Linked DNA regions of Homo sapiens. The protein of the gene in region 2 purifies or fractionates together with the protein of the main gene of each other region. This does not show direct contact. Each region holds a gene or a part of one and is shown on either strand. Other genes may lie near its edges.

Evidence for each region.
Region 1: the proteins of CLDN10 (region 2) and ATE1 purify together in Homo sapiens (affinity purification with mass spectrometry; 3 studies listed by BioGRID and IntAct, with this or other methods). This does not show direct contact.
Region 3: the proteins of CLDN10 (region 2) and FGF1 purify together in Homo sapiens (affinity purification with mass spectrometry; 3 studies listed by BioGRID and IntAct, with this or other methods). This does not show direct contact.

What each region holds. Positions count from the first base shown.
Region 1 is NC_000010.11:121,896,976-121,904,083, forward strand, and holds part of ATE1 (arginyl-tRNA--protein transferase 1), read right to left. Parts: intron 5,646-7,108; coding exon 5,416-5,645; intron 3,020-5,415; coding exon 2,891-3,019; intron 1,995-2,890; coding exon of another isoform or gene 1,866-1,994; intron 1-1,865. UniProt on the Homo sapiens protein: Involved in the post-translational conjugation of arginine to the N-terminal aspartate or glutamate of a protein. This arginylation is required for degradation of the protein via the ubiquitin pathway. Does not arginylate cysteine residues.
Region 2 is NC_000013.11:95,548,122-95,555,805, reverse strand, and holds the start of CLDN10 (claudin-10), read right to left. Parts: upstream 3,087-7,684; 5' UTR 3,053-3,086; coding exon 2,833-3,052; exon of another isoform or gene 1-2,832. UniProt on the Homo sapiens protein: Forms paracellular channels: polymerizes in tight junction strands with cation- and anion-selective channels through the strands, conveying epithelial permeability in a process known as paracellular tight junction permeability.
Region 3 is NC_000005.10:142,683,023-142,690,169, forward strand, and holds the start of FGF1 (fibroblast growth factor 1 isoform 1 precursor), read right to left. Parts: upstream 3,069-7,147; 5' UTR 2,935-3,068; intron 2,682-2,934; exon of another isoform or gene 2,477-2,681; intron 793-2,476; exon of another isoform or gene 674-792; intron 1-673. UniProt on the Homo sapiens protein: Plays an important role in the regulation of cell survival, cell division, angiogenesis, cell differentiation and cell migration. Functions as a potent mitogen in vitro. Acts as a ligand for FGFR1 and integrins.

The DNA.
Region 1 (7,108 bases), on a different chromosome or scaffold from region 2:
GCTGCCCAGAACACCTTTCTCCCTTTTTGTCCTGGCAAACACCTACTCATCTTTCCAGACTTGGCTCAAATGTCACTTCCCTCAGAAAAACCTCTCTAACCTCCAGTTTCACACTAAGCTGGCTGTCCCTACTAATCCAATGGCTAATTCTAAAGGCACTGGAATTGCATACCTGTCTACCACCCCAATTCAGACTATGAATGCCTTTAGTGCTGCTCTAAGTCTGCATAAAGGGACTTCCCAGAGGCCTGAAGCCTACTAGGAGAAGCTCCTGGGGAAGTCTTGAATAAATACACCGGGCCACAGAAACATTTTGTCCAACTATTCCTACCTGCTAAGCAGGGAGGTAGAAAGGCATCATCTCCAGAGCACTAGGAAGGAGGAAAGTTCAGAAAGCAAAAAGACCCCCTGAGAATATCAAAGGAAGCTTCCTAGGCCTAGCAGAATCCTTACTATCTGCAAATGCTATCACCCACAGTGGCATGGATCAACAGGGAACCTAGGACATAGCCTCTCAAAACTGAAATGTGCATCTGAATCCTTTGGAAACCCAGTTTAAGATGTAGATTCTGGCCGGACCCGGTGGCTCATGCCTGTAATCCCAGCACTCTGGGAGGCCAAGGAGGAAGACCACAAGATCAAGAGATCAAGACCAACCTAGCCAACATGGTGAAACCCTATCTCTACTAAAAATATAAAAATTAGACGGCTGTGGTGGCACGCGCCTGTAGTCCCAGCTACTCAGGAGGCTGAGGCAGGAGAATCGCTTGAACCCGGGAGGTGGAGGTTGCAGTGAGCAGAGATTGCGCCACTGCACTCCAGCCTGGCAACAGAGCAAGACTCCGTCTCAAAAAAAAAAAAAAAAAAGTAGATGTTGAATGAATAGGACTGAGAGTCTGTGTTCCAGGTACTGCTGATGCTGCAGGTCTGCAAATGACACTTTAACCAGAAGACTCTGGGGGATCTGGGAAGTGAGCCCTTTCTCAGGGAACATGCAGCATTAACTCCTGTTGTATTAACCCTCTCTTTTTAGCTTACACATCGTGTCATTAAAAAAACAAAAGCAGTCAAAAAATCAAAACTCTAATTCTTCTGCATCTGTTGGCCTCTTTCTTCCAACATACCATGGTTCTACTGTGACAACGATGCCATCTCATTCATTTCAATATCCCAAGACTGACAAAGACAGACCCTCAATAAACGCCCGTTAAACCATATTATATCTAACAGAAGGTCCCCAACTTATAATGGTTGGACTTATGCTTTTTCAACTTTACAATGATGGAAAACGATTCCGTTTTTCACTTTCAGTACAGTATTCAATAAATTACATGAGATATTCAACATTTTATTATAAAATAGGCTTTGTGTTAGATGATTCTGCTTAACTGCAGATTATAAGTGTTCTGAGAATGTGTAAAGCAGGCGAGGCTAAGCTATGATGTTCGGTAGGTTAGGTGTAGGTATTTCTTTCTAATTCACTTGTTGTTAAGGTATTTTTGCTTATTGGTCTGTCTTTCCCATTTGATTATCAATTTCTTGAAGACAGAGACTCCTTTTGTTCTGTGGTGCACAGTCTGGCACACGATGGGCACTCAGTAAATGACTGTTGACCTAGAGTGGATGACTGACCTTATAAACCACTACTTTCAGGTTCCTAGAGAAAACACTAAGAACGCATCCTGAATTTGCAATCCTTTTTTCTAAGGATTTAAAATGCTCACATGTATGAGTCATGTGAGTGTTCACAGAAGTTCAGTAATACACACTGAAAGGGTCATCAGCTCCACCTGACAAGAAAATGGTATATATTATACTTCTTCCCAGACAACCTTATCAACACAGAAAACAACAGTTAACAATACCTCAGTCTTCCCACATTCATCGGGTGGATCCTGGTGTATGGCCACTTGATACTTGACATACAAAGAAAAGGACTGGCTGAAAGACGACTTGAACTCTGGGTCCTCAAAGGAGACAGGTACTAACCTCACCTTCAGAGCAAGGAAAATACAAGCAAATGCTATTGAAACATCTCTGATGATATGCTTCTGAAGGTGAGGCTACAGTAAGATCTCCACAAATCCACGCCAAAGCTCGAACTCGAATTTGTCATGAAAAGAAACCTTAGACGAGGCAGACGGGTGCAGAGACCGAAGTGCTAACTGTACTAAAACTTATGAAAATCTCAACCTCATAAGAGCCAACAATTTGTTCTTTTTTTTTTCTCTCTCTCCACTAATTGTAGTTTTCTGCATAAACTAGAGTCAATATTGTTGTTAATCATGGTGATGATCGCTACTTTTGCCACCTCTACTTATACTAAGTGTTTTAAGCTTTTTTCCTTTACAGATTTTTCTTGGGTCATTTAACTTACAAAATTATTAGCATATGAGTTCTTCTATTAAAATGTTCTACTATCTTCCTTTTTTAGTCCCACTCAATTGTGCAAGGGTAGCACATTAATAAAGAATAATTTAACTGGGATCAATTATTCCTACATACATCTTTCAAATACAGATAAAGCATTAAAATCATGTTAGGCAAAGTACGTATCTACCATAAAAATATAGTTTCCTGAGTTTTCCTCACAGGTATTTTAATTTAGAGCTCTATTACTATCTTTTAGATAAATGCATCTAAAATAGTGACTTTAAATAATTTTACATGTTACTTTGACTCTGAAATTATACATGGCTGGTACTTAACATGGCACTAGGTAAAATTTGCACTTTCAGAATGTCCATTAATTCAGTCTTAGGTCTTTGCAGATATGCTGCAAATTGAACACAAATAAAATGTAGCACAAATAAACCAAGATTTCATTAAATGATATTAAGTGGAAGGGAAAGCTCTGTTTGCACAGGAAAATTACACTTGGCCTGCTGACCTGGCTTTCGGTTGGCGTATCAGGTGGGTTCTTGTGAATAACCATCTGGTAACGTTTATAGACCTGGTAAGACTCCAGAAGTGTGGCTTTGAACTGCGAACTTGGTGGAGATGATCTCACCACCCTCACCTTCAGAAGCAGTTAAAAAAACAAGTTTACTAATTCATTCATTTATTCATTCTGTGGAATATGCATTAAGAGTAACTCCCATCCAAGAAACCAAGTTTCAACAATTATTAAAGCACCTAAATATTTTAATATTAAAAACCAACCAGTTAGTAAATAAAGAAAAAAGTTATTTTTGTAACTTACAGACTCATTAAGAAGAGGACGATCCCCTCTAAACTATAAGCCTCAGCTTTCATGACTGAATTATGTAAGCCTGCCTCTACTGTAAACTGGCAGAGTATTTCCAGCACTCGTACACACACGACACATACACACACAAATAAATACCCTCTAGTTGTGCACAACTACCAGTAATTCTAAGAAAGACTAAAAATATGAATACATTTTTTGGCCACTCATTCATCATTGCTAACCCTCAACTTAAAACTTGACTGTTTGAGTTAAAAAGACCTCATAAAGTTTTCCTACTTCATAGCATAGTTAACAACCATGACTCTGAAGTCACATTTCCTTTGTTCAAATCTTACAATGTCACCATCTTGGTCAAGTAACCTTGTAAAATAAGGATAAGTTTAAAACAGTAATTGCACGCAGTAATGGCTAACATTTACTTTAACATTATTTACTAGCCACTTAAAATGTATTAGCAAAACAGAACAGTAAAACAGTCAAATGCAATGCAATGAAAACAGCTGGAAACTGGACATGTGTGCCGTGAGACGTAATTCTATGAAGAAAGAGCGACACCCAGTGGTAAAAGATCTCTATACATCCTGAGTATCATTACATTCAAAAAGTACAAGTAACCACTGGAGAACTGTTATGTTAAGCGTGCTTGGCCTCCTGAATACATTACTATTTATGATCAAAGATAAAAGACACCTTGTAAAATATTTTAAGTAGTGTATTCAACTCTGTTTACAATTTTGGAAGGACAAAAAAATCTGTATCCAAATCAGAGTAGCCAAGGAGTTATAAAAGCTAAAATCTGGCCAGGCAAGGTAGCTCACACCTCTAATCCCAGCACTTTGGGAGGCCGAGGCGGGTGATCACCTGAGGTCAGGAGTTCGTGACCAGCCTGGCTGACATGGTGAAACCCTGTCTCTATTAAAAATATCAGAAATTAGCCGGGCGTAGTGGTGGGCACTTGTAATCCCAGCTACTCAGAAGGCTGAGACAGGAGAATCGCTTGAACCCAGGAGGCAGAGGTTGCAGTGAGCCGAGATCGCGCCATTGCACTCCAGCCTAGGCAACAAGAGTGAAACTCCGTCTCAAAAAAAAAAGCTAAATTCTACGTCTGATAATACATATACTGAATTAAGGCTTAGAATGCATGAAAGTTAATTTTTATTATCAGGACTTCAGTGATAAGTGATATTTTTAGATGATAGTAAGCTACAAAATTCAAAGGCTGACCAGTTACTAATCACATATGAGAATAAGATAAAAATCATTATGGCTAATGTTTTTGAATTTTTTTGAGACAGTCTTTTGCTCTGTCACGCAGGCTGGAGTGCAGTGGTGTGATCTCAGCTCGCTACAACCTCCACCTCCTGGGTTCAAGCAATTCTGGTGTCTCAGCCTCTCTAGGAGTTGGGATTACAGGTGCACGCCACCACGCCTGGCCAATTTTTATATTTTAGTAGAGACGGGGTTTCACTGTGTTGGCCAAGCTGATCTCAAACACCAGACCTCAAGAGATCCACCTGCCTCGGCCTACCAAAGTGCTAGGATTACAGGTGTGAGCCACCACATCCAGCCCTTGTTTTTGAATTTTATATATGAGAAACTAATACTGAGAAATCTTGATCTGATCTAGAAACGAAAATAAATTTGGAAAAATGGAGGAATTTGGCTCTAAAAGTATTCATATTATGCCCAAAGTGGTTTTGGCACTAATGAGAGAGGATTTCAGCAGTACAATTTAGCCCTATTTAGATAATTCCTAACTGCTGGCTTATGTATATGACACCATTTGCTGTCTTTACCAAGATCAGAATATTATAATGGATGAAATAGTGATTTGCCTTGTGTAATCTATTGTCTTTCACTATCTAAACCAAAACTGCTAAAAACACAATTTTAAAGAGTATTTCTTTCATTTTAACTATTAAATTTCAATCAAGGTAGCATGCTAAAATTGACACTGTTTTCACAAGTTTGGTGGCCAACTATGTATTCTCAAAAAGTCTTTTAAAAAAAAAGGAGTTTCCCTCAAACAGCAGTTAACTTAGTAAATACAAATGTTACTTCTTCCCAGTTCTCTTTAATTTCTTTTAAATTCTCATTATTTAACTAGCAAACATCAACTAATTAGAACTTCAAATAAAAATAAACGATATGCCCAAACAAAAAAAAATCATAATAAAACAAACAACAAAAGTCCTCCAAAGTACCTCTAACTTGTGTGATGCATTCTCTGGTAAAGACTCAAAAATTAAATCTTCGAGTGATTTTGGCTGGTTGGATTTAGCCTTTGGTGGAAACAAAGATGGTGGGTGACCTTGAGCCTGGAAACCCTCAAGTTCTCCAGCTGGGTTCTGCTGCATTAGTTTTAACCTTTTCCTTTCTTTCCGGATTTCCTTTGCTTTTCGACATGGAGGCTTACTCAAATCAGCCCCTTTGCCTAAAAAGAATTTTAAAATATTAGACCAATCACATTTGGTTCTAGAAAAGTTTTTTCACATGTCTCAAAGATTCTACAGTGTAAGTCCAAAGAGTTTCAATGGTTAGGCTAGCTTTGGGGTAGATGTTTCAGAGGATCCTGATACAGAGCTGTAAGTGGATCTAAAATTCTACCTTAGAAGTGGGAGTTGCTAGAGAAAGTAAATAGCACAGAAACTTTCCAAGGTGGCTCTTACTGCTGAAAATCTTTTTTTTCTTTTTTTTGAGACAGAGTCTCGCTCTGTCACCCAGGCTGGAGTGCAATGGCATGATCTCAGCTCACTGCAACCTCCGCCTCCCAGGTTCAAGCAATTCTCCTGCCTCAACCTCCCGAGTAGCTGGGACTACAGGTGTGTGCCACCGTGCCTGGCTAATTTTTGTATTTTCAGTAGAGATGGAGTTTCACCATGTTGGCCAGACTGGTCTCAAACTCCCTTGGACAGACTGGTCTCAAACTCCTGACCTCGTGATTCACCCACCTTGGCCTCCCTAAGTGCTGGGATTACAGGAATGAGCCACCAGGCCCGGCCCAAATATCTTTTTTTAAAAAAAAACATTCATCCACTTCTCTGCCTTTGTGAGGAAGAACACAATCAAATCAAAGTACCTGCTGCATTAAAAGGACACTGCTATCTCTGCCCAACATTTCTGAGGGACATTTCTCTGAAAGCACTGGTAACATAAATACTTAGGAACCAGGTATAAAGGAATACTGATCCCAGCGCAAACACTGACAGGTTTTTTTAAATTAAAAGAATCCTTGTGCACCTGGAATTCTAGCACTTTGGGGGGCTAAGGCGGGCAGATCACCTGAGGTTGAGAGTTCGAGACCAGCCTGGTCAACATGGTGAAACCCCATTTCTACTAAAAATACAAAAATCAGCCAGGTGTGGTAGCACACACCTGTAATCCCAGCTACTCAGGAGGCTGAGGCATTAGAATCACTTGAACCCAGGAGGCAGAGGTTGTGCTGAGCTGAGATGGCACCACTGCACTCCAGCCTGGGCGACAGAGTGAGACTCTGTCTCAAAAAACAAAAAAGGAATCCTTGCTTAGTTGAAGGTATCTGTGTCTTTCTCCAAATACTGCAGGTATTTGGGTCTCATTAGTTCAGCTGTAGTTAATCAGAGTTTTGTTCTAATTAACAGACCAAATATCAAACTGACATCCCTTTAAAATAAAAAAATTTTTACTATTATAAACTAAATAAAAATACTTAGAAAAAAACCTGGAAAGGAGACACCATGGTAACAGTCATTTTACTTTGTTTCAGAAACAGAGACAGGATTTACCTTTCTTTGTAGTGTTCTCTTTTCTCCAAATTTTCTTTTTTTTTTTTGAGACAGAGTCTCGCTCTGTCACCCAGGCTGGAGTGCAGTGGCGCCATCTGAGCTCACTGCAACCTCTGCCTACCGGACCATTCGA
Region 2 (7,684 bases):
AGAGGGCCCCTACCCTGGAAGCTTCCACTTGCAGGTGGGGGAATCAACTCCCCTCCACAGGAAAACACAGTTGCATGATTTAACCCTCCAAGATGTTATTCTGAGAGATACAGAAAAGTAAGTTTGTTTTGCGGTAAGAAATGCCATCTTAAGCCACAGAAGGAAAGTCATCAAAAAAACAGGCTGATAAATATGATTCTATTACAAATTTCAAAGTCCTGTGTGAGAAAAGGCATCATAAATTTAAAAGATGAACAATGGTGTGAGATTGCAACCTACATAACAAATCAAGGACTGACAAATCATCGAAACCACAAAGAAACAACAGAACCATGGGCCTAAGATATGGATGCCAATTCACAAAAGAGAAAAAAAAACGGTCAGTGAGTTTTGACCATTTTTATAACCAGTGATTTTGACCACGGCAATAAGGGAAATGCCAACTAAAATGATAAGATGGCTGGGCGCGGTGGCGCACACCTGTAATCCCGGCACTTTGGGAGGCCGAGGAGGGTGGATGACCTGAGTTCAGGAGTTCGCGATCAGCCTAACATGGTGAAACCCTGTCTCTACTAAATGCAAAAAAAATTAGCCGGGCATGGTGGCACATGCCTGTAATCCCAGCTACTTGGGAGGCTGAGACAGGAGAATCACTTGTACCTGGGAGGCGGAGGTTGCAGTCGGCTGAGATTGTGCCACTGCACTCCAGCCTAGGCAACAAGAGCAAAACTCCGTCTCAAAAAAAAAAAAAAAAAAAACTGGATTAACACAGAGTGGTGAGAATGTGGAGAAGCAGGTATTCTCATACACTGTCAGTGGAAAGTAATTTGACAGTATGAACTGAATATTAAAATGCACGTGTATTCTACTGCTCTTACGATACCATTTCTCAGTGGAATGGAGTCTACAGAAATACACACACATACAAAGAGGTGAATATAAGATTTTCAGTAAAGCACCACCAACAAAGAAAAGCTGGAAAAGGTCCAATGTCCACAATGGATCTATGGTTAACTAAGCCATTTTATGCAGTCTAATGAATATACCATGCAGCAGTTACACAGAGTCAAGTCACTTCTATTAAGTACTGACTTGGAAAAATACATTGATTTTAAAGTGTTGTACAACAGTAGGTAGTGTCATGCCATTTATGTTTTTAAAAGTCATTTTTTAGTCACATGAGCACACAGGAAGGCCATTTTGCAAGCTGGATGGCATAAAAATGTCACTCCTCTCTGTTCTCCTCCCAGCTAACCAGGACAACTATTCCTACTTCCTCTTCACTCCCGGCCCGATCTGCCCCCAAACAGGTATGGTACCACCTCCACTCTCACTGCAGACATGTAGGAGAAAACTTTATTATTCTGCACTTAATAATATTCATAGAGCATTCATTTCCTTCTCTCCCTTGTCCCCCAACTGTCCTACAGAAGGAAGCGTACCTATCTGGCACACTATCTCAGAGAACAATAGAGTTACAACAGAAGAGTGTTCAGAGGACAGTAACACATTGCTGACTATAAATCACAGGAACAAGAGAATGCCTGTTCATCTACCTGGATGCGTGCTCTACAAACCACAGGAAATTCAACGGTAATGCTGGGGAATAAACACTGTTCCGGCTGCTTATTTTACCGAACAGGACACGGACCCGGGCGCCACCCTTCTAAAACTAGATGCGTATTCCTTATACGGAGGTTCCATCAAATACCACGTTGAGCAACAGTTTGCTCTTCGTGGCAAACCCCATCTTAGAGGAATCAACTATTTTCTTTCATTTACCCAGCTATGTAAACAAAACCTGCAAGTGCGGTAATAAAAGAAAAAAACACCTCAAATCTAGAAATATGTAATGTAAATAACTCCTCTTAAGTTTCTGCCAGGATTCGTTTGCTGTAAAATCCTGGAAGCAACGGGCCTAGAACTTGAGCAATCAATGGGACCGGGCTGACATCGGCTGTTGTCTTGAAACTCAACAGAGCCAGAGTTCTGTGTGAATATCCACCAGCTGCTACCAGCATAAGGCCTGACTAACCAGAGCAACGCAGGTGAACCTCCACAAAGGAACAACCCAGGACAGCAGCAGGCACCGGGGACTCGGATGCAGAACTGGTCAGCTCCCGGCGCCACGCTCTCACGGCCCAAGATTCCCTACCCTCTGCGGACTCATCGCGGCACCGCAAGGGCTATTATTTTCCTAAAACTCGGAGGAAGTGTTTGTAGTGTTGCCTAGGCAGACAAGTTTGTAGAAGCTCTTTAAAGGGAAACAATAACAACAACAAATTCTGCAATATGTTTTCCCGCTTCCAACCTCTCAACCCCCACCCCCGCCTACTTTTAAAAGAACCAACGAAATGGCTCAAGGGAGGTCAGGACAAACGGATTTGGCTTGCAATGACACCATTTTTATCAGAACCCAGCCTTCGGGGAACGTAGGGGAGGGAGGTGGAGGAGACAAGCCCCTGCAGCATGAACTCTGGGTCCCAGCGGTCCCCAAGATATGGGGGGTGGGGGAGGGCAGCCGCTTCCTTGACTCTCAGGACCGCAAAGCTTCCCCATCCCCCGACGCCTGGGAGTCACCAACCCGGGCCTGTCTGCGTGTCCCCCCTCCCGGGGTCCCAGGCTCGAACAGGCGCCCCGCGAGACAGCCATCAGGAGAGGGCGGGCACCAGGAGCGTCCCTGGCTCCCTAAGGCCCTGTTGGGAGAGACGGGTCGGGCCTCAGAGGAGTCCAGTCTAGGGGTCCCGCTGGGGGTATTGGGGGCGAGAGGGCGCCTAGCGGGCTGGCCATCAAGGAAGGAGGGCTGAGGGCGGGGGCCGCGGGGATGCAGACCGTCCAGCGCCAGCATGGAGGGGAAGTCCTTGCAGTTGGAGACGCCCGTGGAGTCGGTAACGCACGCCTTCCACAGGTTGGCCCAATAGGTGGCGGTTGTGATGACCGTGCCGTCGATGGTAGACACCTTCCAGTAGTCGGTGGGCAGCGTGGAGGACACCAGTACCCAGCCTGAGATGGAGACCATGAAGGCGATGATCTCCGAAGCCGTGCTAGCCATGCCGCCGGCTGCAGCCGCGCTCGCTCTCCGGCTCCCACTCTGCGCCGCGACCCCCGCACTCCCAACCCCGGGGCTCCGCCTCCCGCCTCCGCCTCCGCCCACCGTCCCCGCCCACCACCCCGCCCAGCGGACCCGGCGCCAGGGGGCGCACGCGACCCCTCACACCCATGCCCTGTCCCTTGAGGGGCCTCAGAGGGCTCGCGGTCGCCCCCCGGGTTCTCCATCTGCAGCTGGCCCGCGCCCGCGTGCGGGAGGAAGGCCGGCCTGCGCTCCCCTGAGCCAAAGGGCCGCGGAGAAGGGCTCGCTTGTTGGAGCGGCTCAGGTTCAGACTGGCAACCGGGTGTGGACAACCTGCTGCGCCCCCACCTCACCACCCCCACCCAGCCCTACCCAAGGCAAATAGCTTGGCTTCCTGACTACCTTGTAGAAGCAGAGCAGGAAAAGCCTTTTGCATGCCCTGAAAGGACACGGTTTGGTAACTCAGCCCTCGGTTTGCTGAACTCTAAAGGTTTGCGTGCCACGCTTGTTTGGGTGACTCTGTTTGACTTGTCAAGGAGGGATCATTGCAGATTCTGGGCTGGAAACCGGCCTTGCCCTCAAAACTCTGCAGTTCTTTTTGGCCTGGTGCTATGCGGAAAGTCATGGCAAAACGGTGCGTGGCACAGGCCTAAAGTCAAGATAGCAGCAGATGGGGCATCCTGACGATCTTGATCTTGCTGGTGTACTCATACTAATGCACTACGCAGAGGGCATTTGTTCAACACATTTTCCCTGTAGGTCCCTTCCAGCTTCCAGGTCTAGAGGCTATTCTATGAAAGGATGCTGTTATCCCAGTCAAAACTGCTATCTTGTCTTTTATTTTTTTTTAAACCACCTCCATCTCTCACGCCTAATTGAAATATAAACTCATTCATTCCTTCATCCCTTCATTGCTGTCTCAAGGTAAACATAAAGATCAAGGTGTACTTCTGGCTCCTGAGGCCACAAATCTGGGCATAAATGAGAGAACAAGGACACGGGTTATTATTTGTCCACTTAAAGGTTCTTGCAGTTTTGTTATGAGCTTCCAGGTTTCACTTGTTGCCAAAAGTAAGGAAAGGTCTAAAACCTATCAATCAGTCTGCTGTGATAAATCTCGTGCTAACCCTCTGTGTCACTATCTTTAGGCAGAAACACTCTGGTTCAATGTGAAGAATTTCTTAATTTCCCTTTGTCACTTTTTTTTTTTAACCAAATGGGTGCCCAGTGAAATTAGAGGCGACAAGGTGACTGGAGAAGAGAGGAAGCTGGACATAGAATCATCAAAACTTAGATTGGAAGAATCACTGTAGACCAGCAGGACACGCTCCACACTCAAAACAATGTTCCTGTCTATTTCTAGAGATAATGTTTAGCCCATGCTCCACCCTTCAGGACCAGCAGTTCAGTGCATGGCAACGTATCTATTCTGTTTTTCTTCATGTTGTTTTGACAGCCCTTTAAAAAAGCTTTTCTTCCTATTGAGCCCCAAATCTGTCTCTCTTCAATGTCTACCCGAATGTTGTAATCTGTGCTCTGAGAACACGAAGTAAGTCCTACTCTTGTTGCAGCCGTGCAGCGGCTGGCAGGTAGTGGGCTTCTCTGTGCTTAATGGTCCCATGGCTTTCGTGAATGGGTACAAGGGTGACAATGCAGACATGGTTACCCTACTGTTCTGCTCTGAACCCCAGCTTGTCCTGATGTATCATGTTAGGTTCACTGGTAAACTAAACTTAAAAACTGAGTTTAAGAAGTATCTCCCTGGCTGGGCGCAGTGGCTCACACCTGTAATCCCAGCACTTTGGGAGGCCGAGGCGGGCGGATCATGAAGTCAGGAGATCGAGACTATCCTGGCTAACACGGTGAAATCCCGTCTCTACTAAAAATACAAAAAAAAAAAAAAAAAAAAAAAAAAGTATCTTCCTAACCTCTTCCTTCTCATTCTCCTTGCTATGCAAATCAGTCACCTTTGAGCAATGACTACAAAGCATCCTCTATTCTTTTGTATGGCTTGCCTTTTTAAAGTGTTTTATCATCTGTTTTTTTGCCCTCCAGCATATTTCCACTATTATTTCTATGCCATATTCCTTCCTGAATAATCTGCCTATTTCTGATCCAATTACTATTTGAAAAACACAAAACCCACTAACCATAACATTTCTTACTGATTTTTCTAAAATTACAAATTACACAAATTTAATACTTTATTTCCTGGCCTTGTTCGATAGTCCCTTTGTTTACCGTGGCTCGCCTATGGTAGATACTCACTAAATTGATTATTTCTTTGTTTTTACTAGACAAAACCCTGACTTACTTTTGCCACAAAACAAGTGTAGTGCTGTGACCTTTAAGACTCAAGCACTTCCTAATTTATCACCTAGTTGCTATGAAGTCCACTGTTTGGATCCAAAGGCACATTGTTTGTTTTAAAGAAAGAACTTTGAAGAATGGTTTGGTGTTTTAAACCAGTCTGCAAAGTTTATTTAACACATAATGTAGCTCTACCCATTATACTTCAAAAATCCATAAGCCCAGATTACCGTTGCAACATAGCATCCGGAAGAAACAAATTCTGAATTCCTGCTTGGAACACTCTTCTCTCTGCCGCATCGCCACACCAGTGAAGCCAGAATCTCTGGGGGTGGCCTTGGTAGCAGTATTTCCAAAACTTCTAATGTGGACTCAGGCTGAGAACCACAGCTCTGACCAGTTGAGCTCTGTGTATGTGTGTATAAACAGTTAATTTAGCATAACGGATGGTGGTATGCATCACAGGAAGAAAGAATATTAAACTCATTGTTGAATACTTTGAAAAAAGAAATATTCTATTACTGTAGAGATTGCAACACACAATTTCAACTTAAAAGGGATGGGAAACACCACAAACAATCCATAAATTAAAACTTAAATGGCAGCATTATTAGTTCCTTTGGCAGCTAAAACAGACTAGGGTCGTCATGCCTGTGGACTTGGTTAATTTTCCTTTCTCCTTTCTATGAGGTTGGACAACCCTAAACTCTTTTCTTTATCTTCCCTAGGATGTACTACATAGTTACTGTGGAAAGCTGTATGTTGGAGGCCATGAGTTCCTGACCAAAGAATGAAAAATGTTAACTTTCTTTAATACCTAGATAATATTATGTAATGAATCAAACATTTTTATTTTAGAATGTCTTATATCTTATGCTTCTCAAGCTAGTTTTGTCAGGAGAATTCTAAAGATATTATGGAGTAGCATATAATCTAAAAAAAGAATGTCCAGAAAATAAAAATGGACCAAATAGAGATTTTTGAAAAGAAGTAATGGATAAATGTCTTGTTTTGCTTTAAGATTATACAGTTCCCAAATAACCTTTGCAGTTAATCTGCAAGCCGATTTACAGAGTACTTTCGACTGATAAATGCTTCCTTATTTTCTTTAGGATTCAGTTCACTGAAATTTCATAAGAGACTATTCTTAATTTAAATATAAAAGTGAATACATCAAAAAAGGTTGCCTCCTCTAAATTATTCAAAGTAACATCTTAGTTAACAATAGTTTAGTCTTTACAAAAAGCTATAGATCTTTTCCAATATGAAAACTACTAACTGATCTATAAATTTGACCCGAAGACATACAATGCCCTCAAACATATTCTGAGCCTTTCTACTTTTGAGGTCTAAGTCACTGGAATTAGCATTGAAAATTATTTCTTTGGCTTATTATGGTTATTAAAGAGAAATAGAGGATCCCCCCCACCCTGGGGTTGTTCAATAGGAGTGAAAACCAGTTTAGCCAACTAAACAGGAGATTTGCAGAAATTCCTTACTTGAGATTCAGTACACCTACCAAGCAACGCAGGTGTGCCTTTCAATAGCTCAAGGATTTTCTAAGCATCAGATTTGGTTTCAGTATACATTAGCTCCTTCCTAGATTCCAGTGAGGTGGCGTGCTGCTAATCAGGTGGGAAGAAACTGAATTCCTGATGATACGGTATTAACTAAAAAAAACAACTGCCCAGGAGCCAAGTATTGTTACATCACATTAAAGAAGACATTAATGCCGGTACCAAGATATTAAAAGAGCATATCTGTGTTCTTTTTCCTTCCATTTTCCCTAACATTTCATTTATCTTAATGCTTATGCAAATCCAATGATATTTGTAATCTACTTAGCATGAAAGCTACAGAGTGATAGGAATAGTTACAGAATGAACAGTTATTCTCACCATTGCATCACCATTCATATATAAATATATATCTATAATTTTTTTTGCAAATTATAACTATAAAAACAGTTGCCTTATTCTGTCATTTGGCAACCTGTGAAGTTGTACTCCATCAGAATATTTCTATGGGCCTATTACAAGTCAGTGCCATATACCTTGTGGATTTGTTTTTCATGCATTCATTTGAAACACACTCATTCCCAATTCTAAATTATCTTAGTAGACTCCTCTTGAGCCCCTGAAGGGGAGGGGTAAGGTTTGGGCCCCAGCAGGAATACCCTTCGAGCCTGGAATTACTCTCACTCTGTGATGCTAGAACATTCCAGGGCTTGTAGACAGGTTGGGTACATTTTGTTTGTCCATAAGCACTTGATGAATATCAATATAACCTCCCACCCAGGTCGGG
Region 3 (7,147 bases), on a different chromosome or scaffold from region 2:
GACGCCTTGCTGGTACTTGAACATTTGTTGATTAGTGAACCCTTTCTTCAGAAAAAGTACTCTCACCCACATGTATAGATGTTAGATTTACCTAAAGCATGGTATGCCTGTGGCACAAACAACTTCAGATTATTTTTCCAGCAACCTAAATCAAGGGATACTGCATTAGCCATGCACTGCTTATTTAATGAGGTGGAAATGGGTGTGTCCACTCTGCACAATACCTAACCCCTGGGAGCTAGCATACAGGCTGACAGTGTCAGAGGCGTTCGAACCAGAGCAACTCCATCTTGAGTGAGGGCTGGGAAAATGAGGCTGGGACCTGCTGGGCTGCATTCCCAGAAAATTAGGCATTCCTAGACTCCAGATATTTATGGTTAAGGGAATAGATTGATAATGTTTACTACACAGACTCAGACTTGGGAGTCTCCAGGTAGCCCGATATTTTGAGAACAAATGCATTCCTAATTTTGCTTTAAAGATAATATGGATTCTTGCAAAATATAGTAATTAAGAAAATTAGGCCAGGTGCAGTGGCTCACACCTGTAATCCTAGCACTTTGGGAGGCCGGTTGGATCACCTGACATTGGGAGTTAGAGACCAGCCTTAGCAACATGGAGAAACCCCGTCTCTAATAAAAATACAAAATTAGCCGGGCATGGTGCCGCACACCTGTAATCCCAGCTACTTGGGAGGCTGAGGCAGGAGAATTGCTTGAACCCGGGAGGCGGAGGTTGCAGTGAGCCGAGATTGTGCCATTGCATTCCAGCCTGAGCAACAAGAGTGAAACTCTGTCTCAAAAAAAAAAAAAAAAAAAAAAGGAAAAGAAAATTAATCCTTTATCCTTTATCACAAACCCTTGTAGCAGAGCACATCTCCCCATGATCTTTTTAAAATCCTATATATACGAGCATGGTACCTAGGATGGATGTGTTCCTCCTCTTACTTTTGGGAACACCCTACTCTGTCAGTGGAGCAGCTGTGCTTTCACCACTTTACTTTCTTAATAAAAAGAAAGTGCTTTTGCTTTGCACTGCGGACTCGCCCTGACTTCTTTCTTGCTTGAGATCCAAGAACCCTCTCTTGGGGTCTGGATCTCTTTCCTGTAACAGCAGTCCCAAGATCCTAATAGTTTATGTGTAGTTCACAGAATGCATGTCACCTAAGTGAGTGGCTGCACTGTCCCAAGATGAGATGTCCCTTCAATGTAGATACGGCATATGGATGTCCGCCCACCATCTCCACTGAATGTTATCATCATGGCTGGTGCTACTCACCTGTAAAGTCAAACCACTTAACCAGATATGGCTTCCTTGATCCTTTGCAGAACTAGTCAAGTCATATGTAAACAGCAGATTTGAGAGAGAATTTAAAAGAAACTCATTGTGTTTTCTCTTAAAGTTTTGCATACTAAGTTTGCTTTGGATTACATACTTCATTTGCAAACCCATTTATTCACACTAACAAAGGCAGGGGCAACAGAAGAAAGTCTCTCTGAGTCCCTCTGCCAACAGCAAATTGTTGATCTTGCCTTCAGATCAACATCTCAAGAGGGGACTTTCCTCGGAAGCCCTCAAAGACCAACACAAAGAAAACAAAGGAAAAGGGAATTTGCGACTGTGAATCAGAGTCTCCACCAAAATCCTCAGTCATCCACACTGACAAACAGCTCCAGTAAACTGCTGGCCACCCTTCACTAGACATCACTTCCCAAAGCGAGGCCCACTCCTTTCAGCCCTGATGCCACTGCTGCTGGCTCACTGTTACACAGAGCTGGTGGAGGGGCAGCCTGGCTCGCCCTCAGCCGGGATGCTCAAGTCCTCCCACTGGGTCGGGGAGCTAACTCGTAAACAATCGCATCCCTGTAGAGAATGAAAGGAAAAGTGCCAGTCACCAGTGCAGAAAGGAGGGAGGCAAGCGGGGGTGGTGGGGTGGTGGGTGGATGTAACATAGCTAGAGAATAATGGAGTGTTTGAATTCTGCTGAGGCAGAGTGAGCCCTTGGGCCTCCCTTGGGTCTCTGAAAAGTGCGTACTTGATTAAATGCCTGAAATTTCCATCTCAGTATCTGGAGGGCTGCATTTCTGAAGTGCTCCTCTGCAGCAGCCTTGCATACCTTTGGCATGTAATTGTGATGTGGGTGTGGATAGTGTATGTGCCAGAGACTCTGTCCATTCTGACTCCTTCTTTCCTAGTGCCCATCGGAGGGGTACTGAAACGAGGATGTGATATTCCAAGATCAGAAAGGAAGGAAAGAAGTAATCCGAGTGACCATGGGGCCATGGGAATACCACCCTACCAAAACCCTGAGCTGACACACCCAGATAATCCTAAACTTCAGCCTGACTTCTATATCAAAAGGTTAATAAAATCTAAGCTGCCCACCATGTGGACAGCTTTTCCAAGGCAGCTGAATATCCAGGCTTCCCAAGAGAGAGCTAGTGTGACACAGCACGATAATGCTAGCCACACTCACCACAGCCAGACTCACCGCAGCTTTCTGCTTCTGCCGAACCTCAAGGGCTGCATCCAGCACTTTAGTAAATGAGAAATGCCTGCCCCCTCCAGCCCTGATTCAGGGCCAGTGTCAGGCGGGCACTGGAGGAATGGAGATAATGTGGCGGCATGGTGCATTCATATTTTTGCAGTCTCTAAACTAGAAGTACTATTTTTACATGTCTGTGACATCAGCATGCCCTTCCCCCAGAGCAGTCTGCACCATGGTTTAAACCCAGCCAAAGGTGAGCTTCTTGAGATTCACTTGCAGGAGTCCTGGTTCCAGTGCTATCTGCTTGAAACATTTTCTTTCTTCTCCAAGTAGCATTACATTTGCACTTGGACACACACACAAAACACACACACACACACACACACACACACACAACCTCAGCTATAACCTGCTCTGTTTCCCAGATCAGATGCCCTGATTCTTACCTAAAGAGCTTGTAGGCCGAGGGCTGTACCTCTCTCCACACTCGCTCAGTGCTGTCCCAGGGGAAGCAGAATCCACTTGGTGTCTTCTTCTCAGAGTAGCCCGGCTCTCTGAACCTCCAGGCTACTGCAGCTCTGAGTGGGGAGAGGGACGGGCCGTGGCATGCACATCAGGTTGCTGGCCTGCCTCCAGATACCATGCCACAGAGCTGGCTACCCGTCCCTAGGGCTCTGTGGGAAATCGAGGTGGGGGGGGTGTAGGCTGGGGGAGCCAAGAATGTCAGCCTCTAGGTCTATCTCCGGTCCTTGTTTATCAGTAGAGGGGACCTGCCTTTAGACAACCGCCCACTCCCACACCACCCGCAGGGATGCACACAGCTCTAAGCAACCCCTACTCTGGACAGCCAGCAGCAGGCCCAGGAACACAGAGCCATTGGCCAGCCAGGAGGGAGGTAGAGACAGAAGACGGTGGCAGCAGCTACCCTGGGTGTTATTTTAACGTGGTTTGTCTTGGGGCAAATGTGTGAGCCGAATGGACTTCTGGCCCGTCTGAGCAGAATCCTGTTTATTTTGAGGCCTGAGTTGCCAGGGAAACAGCAGGTCGTGGCTCGGAGACTCTCCTCTGGAGTCAGAAGGCTGCTGGATGAAAGGGAGGCCTTTTCTGTTCTGTCATCTGGCATCCCTGCATGGGGTGTAGGTGTCTGTGTGTGGCAACGTGTATGTGTGCGTGTGTGTGTCTGTCTGTGCCATCCCCAGAGCCAAGCCCTACAAATGGCATTTTACGAAGTCAATCGAGGCAAAAGCCATCCAGGTTGGGACTGGCGAGGGGCTGCAGAGGTGGCAGCTCTGTCCTCCCTCTCCACTGTTCAAGCCTGTCCCCGTTGGATGAGGTGAATCCTCAGGTGAGCTCAACTTCAGGGGTGGGAAATTCTTCAATGGGCCATGGACATCCTCTTTAGACTTCTGGCCAGGACAGGGTAAGGAAGGGAGGGAGCTGTCTGGACAAATAACTCTTTGGCTAGAAGGTGGGGAATAAGGTGGACTGAAAGGATATGGATCAAGAGCTGTCTTTGAAGAAACCAAATGAAAACATGATTAATAGTTTCCAATAATTGAAGAGTCGCTCCTGCTTATGCAGGCGTTTGAGCCCAGAAGGCATGAGTGTGTGTGTGTGTGTGTGTGCACGCATGCACTCCCATGTATGTACACAAGCCTGCTCACCTGATGATTCAGGTAGAGAGGTACAGATCGACCTGTCAGAACTAGAAATATGCTCTCCAGTCTCTACCTCCTCTGGGTAGTTGCTTAGGTGTAGAGAGGATGGAGTTGCAGTTTGTTCCCCACACTCCCCACAGAGCATGGGGGTGTGGGGAAGCCATCCATGTGCCTTCTGAAGGGATGAGCCTTGGAGAAGGAGCTCGTGTCCTGTACTAAAGAGCTAGAGGCTCAATCATCACAGAACTCCAATCACGGATAAGCAGCAGCTCCCAAAAGGGACTTGAATATACAGAAAATGTTGATTTCTTGAGACCCTATTAATTGGAACCCTCATGAACTACCACTTCTACACCTGCAAAGGATACTGATAATTTGCTTTAAAACATAATAATCTTCCTGAGTATCTGCAAGTTTCCAAAGGGCCTTCTGAATCCTTAAAGAAAATATTTTGGACAATGGTTTTCCAAGTATTAAAGAATCATTATGCTAGATGTAGTATGCATGTTAACCCTTTTTAACTACGTGAAATGATAGACTTGAAAGTTAGAAAATACCCTAAAAATCCTAAGGACAGAGATGCAGACTCAGAGACTCACTCAGGTGGTACCCTTAGTTAAAGTCCTCATTGTGACTAAAACCAGGTCTCCCTGCTTTAGGTTAACCCCGTGTTAACCTGCCTGCACTGTGTGGTTGGCCATTGTTGGGCAATTCAGCCCAAGGGCTCCAGATTCCCCCCCTCCTAGTGGAAATTAATGAGACTTTCCTACTCATATCTTCCCTGCAAACTCACAGGATTATCATGACAATCAAATGTGTCCAAGTGTGTTCGAGCACCTTGAACGCAGGGAATGCAAATGCAAGTCATTATTTTATTTTATTTCTCCATTATGTCCAGTTGTGAAACCCTGTTTAAACACACACACTCACACACACATACACACACAGCTTTTAGGCAAATATAATCCCTAGCTACTGACATATGCTAATTTATCTACTGCATATTGGGTGTTTGGCAATATTACTGTCCAAATACTGGGAAATAATCCTCAGTTAAGGTATTTACTGTAATATAATTCCCGCCAATGTGGAAATTTTTTAAAATTTCATTATAATATCCTTCAATTTCTACATTTATTTGAACTTCTGTTACTATCTAGATTTACCTTTTAAATAACATATATTGAGATTTTTCCCAGTCTGGAGACATGATCATGTGAATGCTTTTCAGCCCCACTGTTATTTAGAGTAGGAAGGGACTTTGCAATGACCTAGTCGAAAAGTCTGGTCTCAGAATAGCCCTCCAGCTCTGTGCCTGGAAATAGTCAGTGGAAATAATAGCCGTCGAAGCTGCTTATTAAGCATCCACAATATGCTAGATCGTATGCAGAACATGTAACAGAAATCATGTCTTCCTCCAAAGCTCTTACACCACTTTAAAAGCCATTTCTGCCCTGATAAAACCTTGTAGGAGAGGCTGCTAGTACTGCAGAGGGGTCCCTGGAGAAAGGAAGAAAATTACAGGTTTGGAGGACCAAAAAAAATTCTAGTAGGTTTATCCACAGAGACGTGGGCTTGCCCCGGAGTCATCCACATCTAAAATGTTGTGGCTCTTGCCAGAGGTGAGATTTTTCCTTTCGCATCCTAACAGATGGACTCAATGCAGAGCACTTAGGCAGCTGCTATTACAGAAAGTGGCTCTACACCTCTCCTAAGAGCTTTAGAAGGGCAACAAAGGTAGAATGTGGTGGTTCTGTGGTTTTACTTATTTTGTGCTCAGTGTCTCTGAAAATCAGACATATAACTATCACATTTTAACTGTACCAGCATGAAAGAAGCAGAGCATTATTGAATCAACAGGGTTCAAAATGCCCCCAATATATACATTTTTTTTCTCTCCAGGCAGAACATAAGCCCTGGTGTCTTGTCCTTGATTCTTGAGAATGACATTCAATATTTGCCTTAAAAATTCCCCTTCATTCATCCTGTTTACACAAATGATACAGTTATGTGAAACACACACCAGACACATTGCATTTTCTTTCTAATCTCATTTGACCGTGTTCAGGCACAACAAATCTTAATCAGCTGACGGGAGAAATTGGATGCTGCATGCCACTCTCTCCCTCCAGCAACACATTTCCCTCTGTTTATGCCCAATGAGGCAGTTAGATGAAGGGTGTCCTGGTCTCATGGTGAAGCAAGCGCCACGATGACAGAGGGCAATGGGAAATGCAGCAGACATTCATGGGAAATTGTATTCGTTGCTCAAGGAGACCAGCCAGCCACAAACATCACCAGAACTGCAGGACAGAAGCTGAGTCCAATGACCCTCAAGAAGGAAGGTGCCTCACCCTGATCCCACTGAAATCCAATCATATGCGCTTGCCCGCCGCTGGTTAGCCTGATTCTTCAGCAACTTCAGGGGAGGATGCTTGGGAAGGGTCCTACCCATGAGAGCTGGGTTTCCTCTCCTCTAATATTGATTGTCTGTCGCCTATTCTACTGTGTTTTCCTCGATCCTAGTTTTTTTTTTTTTTTTTTTTCTGAGACAAGAGTCTCGCTCTGTCGCCCAGGCTGGAGTGGAGTGGCGCGATCTCGGCTCATGGAAGCTCCGCCTCCCGAGTTCACGCCATTCTCCTGCCTCAGCCTCCGGAGTAGCTGGGACTACAGGCGCCCGCTACCACGCCTGGCCAGTTTTTTGTATTTTGTTCAGTAGAGACAGGGTTTCACCGTGTTAGCCAGAATGGTCTCGATCTCCTGATCTCGTGATCTGCCCACCTCGGCCTCCCAAAGTGCTGGGATTACAGGCGTGAGCCACCGCGCCCGGCCCCTCAATCCTAGTTTTTTAATTTTAAAATATTTTACCTTGGCCGGGCACGGTGGCTCACGCCTGTAATCCCAGCACTTTGGGAGGCTGAGGCGGGCGGATCAAGAGGTCAGGAGATCGAGACCATCCTGGCTAACACGGTGAAACCCCGTCTCTACTAAAAATACAAAA